Homo sapiens: one gene and its partner. The protein of the gene in region 2 interacts with the protein of the main gene of each other region in a biochemical or structural test. Each region holds a gene or a part of one and is shown on either strand. Other genes may lie near its edges.

Region 1 (3,815 bases), on a different chromosome or scaffold from region 2:
TGCTCCCCTGGGATCCCCCTCGCCTGTCCGCGAGCTCTCGCACGGCCGCGTCCCTGCTGCTGGGGTCGCTCGCTGGCCCTGGCTGCTCGCCAGGATTTTCCTTTGATGCTGTCAAGTCCGGGAAGCTCACGATGCACCTCAGTGCCCGCGCGCCGCCTCTCCCAAAGCCCCTTCCCCACTCACTCCCCCACAAGCGTGGAGGGAGATGGGGTAGGTCGCGGCGCCTATAGACCCCCTCCCGGCGCCCACTCTCTCTCTTCCACTTCTCTAGCAGCGGTAGGGCCGCAGCGCACGCAAACCTTTCCCCAAAACGCCCACCCCACTCTCAGCTAGCCGCTTCTCTCAGGGCTCCTCCGCCCGAGCTGGGTGTGGGGATCGCCGCGCACACAGAGACGGGAAAGCCACCCCGGTCCCGGAGCGCCGCTTCCCTAGAGGCCCCTGGCCCGTCCGCTCCCCCAGCGCTGGAGGACAGCCGCGCACACAGACCCTCCCCTCCAACGCCCACCGCGGTCCCCAGCTGCAGCCTGCACCTCCACTTCCCGCCCCCAGTCTCCCGCCCTCCGCCCCCTGCTTTCCAGTCTCCGCAGTCCGGGCGCCCAGACTTGTTTCGACTTCCCAGGGCAGCTCCGAGGGTGCGGAAGATCAAGTGCCCGGGTTTGTTCCAGGAAAATCCCGGCGGCGCCTGCACGTTAACTGCCCTGGCGCAGGCGAAGGGTGGAGGGCACTTCTCTGTTCATTCGGTTTTCAAGAGCGTGAACAGAGGCTCCGAGTGAACGCCCATACCTAGTCGGTCTTCTAGGGTCCACGCGTGGGGCGTCCACTTCCTCACCCTGCCCCTCGGTGCCCCTGCCCTGGTTGCACTTCTCCTAAAAGGAGGCGCTACGATTCCAGGAGGCTCTGTCTCCTTACCCTTCCCAGCGGCGCTCAAACCACCAGCCCCGGGCGCCCAACCCCTTCCTTGTCCTCTCCCTATCCCGTGAGAAAGCCGACGCTTCCACCCGCCTGGTCTTTCCGAAATACGCTTCGGGTGGTCAATGCGATTTCTAGGGTCTAAAGACTAGACTCCCGCGTTCCCCACCAAGACACCGACGCGAAGCCGCAGAGGTGGAATCGCGGACGCCCTGGCAGGCCCGGGACATATTGATCCTGGTGGCGCGATGCCCCTCTTCGCACGCGGACGCACTCGCAGCCCCACTCCCCCAAACTCGCACTGCGGGAAGGAACCCCCGACTCGCACCGGCTCCCGCCCCGCAGCAACGGCGACACCCTGAGGTCCGGACGAGCGGCGCGCCCCTCCCAGCCTCGGCCACTTTCCAGCACGAAGCCTCAGGGCGAGCCCGAGACGAAGAAAGAGAGTTCGAGGAACTGGGATACTCACGAGCCCACCGTCCACCCTGCCGGCCGGGGAGGAAGCCCCGGCCGGCTCGCCTCCGTCCGCCGTGCGCATGCGTCCCGCGGGTGCCTTCTCAATATTGCAGCGCGGAGGGCTGCCCTCTCTACGTCGGCGATTGCTCACCGCGCCTTTCGCCTTTCTCCGGCTCTCGGTCTTTGCTCTAGCCCTCTTCTCCCGGCCTCTTCCTCCCCTTGCTCTGCCTCCTCCCCGCCCCCTCACTCCTTTTACCCGGCCGGGCAATCCCACGTCTCGCCTCCCTCCAGCGGCGGCGCACTCCACCGCCGCGGGTGCTAGGGGTACCCCCGAGGCCCCACGCGGGGCGCGACCTCCACCCCGGCCGCAGCCCCACTGCTCCAGCCCCGCATTAGCAAGTCCCAAGAGTGTGGATGCGAAGCCAGGCGCGCGTAGAGGGCGTCCGCGAAGCCCTCTGTGTCATCGCCTCCCCTCGGCGCGCGGGGCCGAGCGAGACTAGAGTGTGCTGGACTGCGTGCTCGGACCTCGTGAATGAAGGGAGCGGGAGGAAGGAGCGGGGGTGGGCGGCAGGCATGGAGGGGGCGCTTGGTCCCCAGAGCTTCGCGTCTGTGGACTGCGCGTCTCTGGAGGGCAGCCCCCTACCTTCTCCCCGGCCCGGGGCGCCTCTCTGAGCTCTGTCCCCGCCCCACCCCGGCGCAGCCTAGGCCTCCGGTCTTCCCGCCCTGGAAAGCGGCCCTCGCCCCCTCCCAGCTAGCCAGAGCGCGGAGGCCCCACCCAGCAACCGAGCGGGGGATAAGGGGGGGAACTAACCCCTGACTCCAGATCCCGCTGAGACCCTCGGCAGTCGCCCTCCGCGTCCCCTTCTCCAGGGACTCCGGAGTCCGGGGAAAGGAGTAGACCAGGGGGCAGCGGGAGGGGGAACCCAGCCGCCCAGCTCTCCGGACTCGCAGCACCGCGTGTCCCCGTAGCCCGCAGCGTCCCTTCGGGAGTGGGACCCGGTGGGGCCGCGGGGTTAGTTCCCTGGAGCCCGGAGGGCTAAGCTGAAGCTGGAAACTGACCTGACACAAAAATAACATCACGTCATTTCCTCCCTTGCCTGCCGAGAGGGCAGGGGAGTGGGAGAGCGAGCGCTGGGAGCAGGCGGAGGCGCGTTTGGGGGAGGCTCGGAGTAGGCGGAGGAGAGCGACACGCTGAGAGTTTGAAAGGCAGCCTCGGGGAAGAGCGAGGGCTCCCTCCCGTTTTCTTGGACCATGGAAAGGAAATGGCCCAGGAAAAAGTAGCTTGGAGTGTCTTCCCGCGGGGAGGGGCGGTGTCCCGGGAGCCGCCAATGTCCCGTCCTAGGACTTGCCCAGCCACGTCCCGGCCTTCCCGACCTTGCCACCCTCCCTACTGCTAGCCCCAGCGGAGCGGGTCAGTTGGGGTTAGGAAGAATCGGGAGAGGCTGGTGTCCTGGGGAGGCTGGGTGTGGGGCGTAGTGGAGACCACGGTACTCACCGGCATAGGCGAGCTCTGCCCAGCGGTGGCGTCTTCTTCCCTGGGCTTGGCTACCGGATGGGGGGGCCTCAGCGGACGACCCCCCGAGGGTCGGCCGGGCAGTGCCAGCGCCGCCCCGAGCAGGAGCGAGAGGCGGCCCGGCAGCTCCTCGTGCCCCCTCGAGAGCCGGGCGGCCGGCAGGGCGGGAAGCAGGGGGGAGAAGTCCAGGCGCCTCCGGGGAGCCTCGGGAGGGGGTCGCCGGAGAAGGTGAGAGAAGAACCTTGCGAGGCTGGAAAGCGGGCTAGAAAGGAGGCCGAACAGCTTCGGGGCGGCGGGCGAGTCTGGGAGCTGTGCAGGCGGGAAGGACTGGGGTGGGGAGAGAGAAACAAAACCAGCATACGGTTACTGTGGTGTCCGGCCGCTTAGATGGGGCTCTTTACTACAGAATTTTGAAGCGTTACTTTGGGGGTGCAAGAGAAGGTCGGTGAAAGCAGAAGGAAAGGCCTATAGTTAGATTCTTTCCCCTCCCACTCCTGTATTTCCTAACTCCGTGCTACTTGAAGTGTGGTCCGTAGGCCAGCAGCTTCGCCAACACCTAGGAGCTTGTTAGAAATAAAGACTCTTGAGCCCCACCCAGCCAATGCATCGGAATCTGCATGGTAACATTCCCAGGGGACTACCATGCGCGCTGAATGTGACATGCGGTATGCAGAAGGGTCTGTGTTCACATCGCCTGGTTCTTCAGAATTTGGATGAAAATCTTAGTTCACTTTTGTAACTGTTGCTCTTCCCCTCCCTTCTCTGGTCTTCCCTTGTTCCCCCTGCCCTTTCCCATCTCCCTAAGTGCCCAGGGCTCTGCCTGCCAGAGGCACAGAGTTGGCCTTGGCTACTAGATTCTATTGGGATTGTTGTCTATGGAAGGTCCAGATAGTGGCTGAAGGTGGCTGAAGGGCCTCAGACCCTCCACAGGCTGGTT
Region 2 (3,600 bases):
GAACTGCTTCGCTTTTACAGATGAGGAAGCCGTGGTCTCCACCATAGCCACAGTTAACCAGCAGTGGGGTCATTCCACTTCCCAGCTCCCTCAGCCCCGTGCAGCCCCCACCGGCCTTTCCCGCCATACCTCCTCCTACTCCCCAGGCATGCTAAGTGCTCCCATCAGACCTAACTGCCCAAGTGCCTCGGTCTATTCTCTCCTCTCTGCCCACAATGCCCAGCTTAGCTGTGCCCATGTCCTTCAAGCTCCAGTTCAAATGTCATGTTGCCCACGAGCTCACCTGACCCCCCAGCCCAGGACACCACTCTGAGGTCCCTCCCGAGGCCCCTGCACCTGCACTCAAGCGGGGTTGGTCGAGTAGAGACGTTTTCCCCTATGCGGTGGTCAATCAGTCCTGGGAGGGCAGGCCCAGTCCACTCCCACCCGGTGCACCCCAGCGTCAAGCTCTGGGGGAGTGACCACTCAATAAATATTTGCTTAATTGAATTTGGCCAAGGAGCCTTCTCCAGAGAGCTCAATCCCCAGGGCAGGGAAATCACTTGGGCAGAAAGGAGCCGGTCAGGGGCTCAGCTGTCTCCCCAAGCAAGACAGACCTCTCTACCAGGCGGGTCCCTCCACCCCAACACGGACTACGCGGAACGCTGGTCTCGCTTGGCATCATCCTCTTGTCTCAGTTAACAGGAGCCCCCATTCTCGGCCTAGGCCGAATCCTGCCATCATCACCCAGGAAGGCTCAGCACCGCCCTAAAGGCAGAGCCCCCTCGGATCGCCCGCAGGATACGGAGCGCCAGCCCTGAGGCCCTCACTCCCCTCCCCCAAACACCCCCACCGCCTTTTAAGGGAAAAAATATTGAGCCGGGAACGTATTACAATCGCAGCAGGTCGATACTCATCTCTTCCTCTAAATGCCTGTGAGGAACCTGCTCGCTGCAAGAGCAGTGACCGAGAACTGCTAGCTGTCCGTCTGCGGGCCCAGGTCCTCGGGCCCAGGCCTCTGGGGCCCTCTCCTCGGTTTCAGGCAAGGCCCTGCATCGGCTCCGGCCGCCCCTCCCTGATCCTCCCCCTAGGGAGACCCGCCTCAGCGCCGCTCCCGCAGCTCGCCTGGCCCGCCCGGGCTCCGCATCAGCCGCTGCTTGGGGGCGCCCGGCGGCCCCGCGCGGCATCCCCGGCGCCCTCTGTCCACCCTCCCGGGTCCTCAACCGCCCCCTCCCGCGGGGTCATCGGCTTGGCGGCGCATCCCTCCCCCAGCACCTGCCCGACCAGAGGCCGCCCCCTGCCCACCTCGCAGGCGTCCCCGCCCTTGGTGTCCCCCACCCCTGAGGGGCATCCCTGACGCTGCGTCCTGGCGGATCCGGGGCACAAAGGCCTGGGAAGAGTCCCAAGTGGGGGCAAGGTGGATGCCCCGGCCGTGCCCCCGACCCCTGAGGCTCAGCGGCGCGCGGCCGGCCGCGGGTCGGCTCACTCACCTCCGGGCCGCAGCACAGAGCATCTGCCGAGCTGCTCCGGGCAGGGCGGGGCGGGGCGGGGCGGCGAGCACGGGGCCGCGGCGCCCTCGTTCCGTACGACGCGGGCAGCGGCGCCCACGCGGGGACGTGACCGGACCGCGGGCGGCGCACACGCTCCGGCCGGCCTGGTTCCCTCCGCCCGCCCTCCCGCGCCGCCCGCCGCCCGCCGCCCGCCGCCAGTCCGCGGGTCCGCCCGCCCCGCGCCGCGCCGCCGCCGGCAGGGGGCGGAGCCGCGAGCGCAGCCCGTTGCCAGGCCAACCGCGGGCGGGGGGGTGCCGCGCGCCCGCCGGGCACCACGCGCCGGGCACCTCCGCCCCGCCACGAGCGCCGGCCCTCTGTCCATTGGGCACAGGCAGCTGACGGACGGGCCAGTAGCCCAATGGGGACGGACAGGGGCGGGGTCGCAGCTCCGCGCGCGCCGCAGTCCCGCAAGAGCTCCCCGCGCCGGCGTTCCACCGACTCCGCTGCGCTGAGGCCTGGTAGCCGAGCCCCAGGGGCCACCTCTGGCAGCCCGGGAAACCAAGCCTGAGCCCAGCCATGGTCCTGGCCCTCTTTACTGCAGCCAGTCCCGGCTCGCCTTCTCTCCACTCGGGTTCAAACCCAGTTCGGCCTCTTGTGAGCTCTACGTCCTTGGGCAACCGACTGACCTCTCTCAGCCTTTCTGTTTGCAAAGTGGGGCTAGTGGCACCTGCTTTCCTGGATTGTCTCACCAATCCTTCAGAACGTGTGAAAGGCCTATGCAAACCCTAACGATTTACACCGGTGAGGTTTGTGCAGCGATGGGAGGGAGCATTAGTCATCTCTGCCGCCGCCCCCCGCCGCCACCGCCCAGTGTCTAGGGGCTCTTTGGCGTCCCTGGCAATCCTGGCACACGGAAGGGTGGCCTTGGGAGGGAAGGAAGGGAGAAGGACCGAGGAGCTGGCCCCCAGCCCAGACAAGCGTGAGAGAGCCAGTTCAGTTAAGGCCACTGATTGGCGCTTTTGGGAAGCTGGTGGAAAGCATCAGACCCTCAGCAAAACGCAGCTGAACCCAGGCTGCAAAATTCTGTTTTCAATTTCAAAGCCTATCTGTGGACCTCAGGGCCAGGAGTCCCTCAGTTCCATGCTTAAAAGACTCTCAAGCCAGAGGGCCAAGACATGAATGCTCCTGTCTCTCTTCTCCATCTTTGTAAATCTGAAGCTTTGTGTATCCTAGAGCATCCCTGACAAAGTGCAAATGCCTTCCCAGCTAACGCGTTCCTTATCACCTCACACCTTTGTAAGGTGTGGATCATGCCATTCTTTGAGCAGCAGCCCTGGACCTGACCATGGCAGAGGTCCATGGAGCGGTCTCTCCATCATAGCTCTGTGGTGGAGGGGCAGGGGCATGTGCCTGGCTTTGCCAGCTGGACACTGTGGCATCTCAGCATCATCCCATAACCTCCCTAGGAATGTTTCCTCTTCTGTGAGATGGAGACCATTGCGTTACGTACCTGCAGGGTCATGGGCCACCTGTGAGGGTGCTGCCTCAACTGTCAGGAACAGGACGTATATTTGTTATGGGCATCATGGAGGCGAACTTAGTGCTCACTGGAGGTGTCCAGTGAGGACCAAGGGAATTCAGCCAATGGCTGAGGGGCTAGCTACCCTTTGTGCTTGCCTTCCACACCACCAGGCTGTGTCAGGCTGGACCTCTTGCCAGGAGGACCACACAGAGACCGGCAGCTGTGCTACCTGGCTGAGCCTCTGTTTCCTCTTCTGTCAAAAGGGAATGTAACAGACTGTGGTCAGAGGGTGGCTCTGAGGGTTAATGTTTATAGGAAATGCATATTAGCATGTCTTGGGATAGCCAGAGGCTGTTTCCACTGCAGAGTCTGGGGGTCAGAGTTGAATTGTTTGCAGAGGTAAGCCCACATGCAACAGTGAGATGGCCCTTTCCAGTGGTCCAGAGCAGAGGCTAGCCTGCGGAGGGGTCCACTGGGGCTGGCTGACACCTCCCTGACTTGACCTCAAAGTAAGAGAGGGACATCTCACCTGGCATCAAACCAATATTGTATTCATGCAGCAGTCACTTACAGATAGCCTCCTCCACCAGGGTATAGTTGTAGGCACAG

The links. The genes of interacting proteins can lie anywhere in the genome.
Region 1: the proteins of GNAZ (region 2) and RGS20 form a complex in vitro, tested with the Homo sapiens proteins (2 studies listed by BioGRID, with this or other methods).

What each region holds. Positions count from the first base shown.
Region 1 is NC_000008.11:53,878,648-53,882,462, reverse strand, and holds the start of RGS20 (regulator of G-protein signaling 20), read right to left. Parts: upstream 1,592-3,815; 5' UTR 1,448-1,591; coding exon 1,379-1,447; intron 1-1,378. UniProt on the Homo sapiens protein: Inhibits signal transduction by increasing the GTPase activity of G protein alpha subunits thereby driving them into their inactive GDP-bound form.
Region 2 is NC_000022.11:23,068,440-23,072,039, reverse strand, and holds the start of GNAZ (guanine nucleotide-binding protein G(z) subunit alpha), read right to left. Parts: upstream 1,522-3,600; 5' UTR 1,470-1,521; intron 1-1,469. UniProt on the Homo sapiens protein: Guanine nucleotide-binding proteins (G proteins) are involved as modulators or transducers in various transmembrane signaling systems.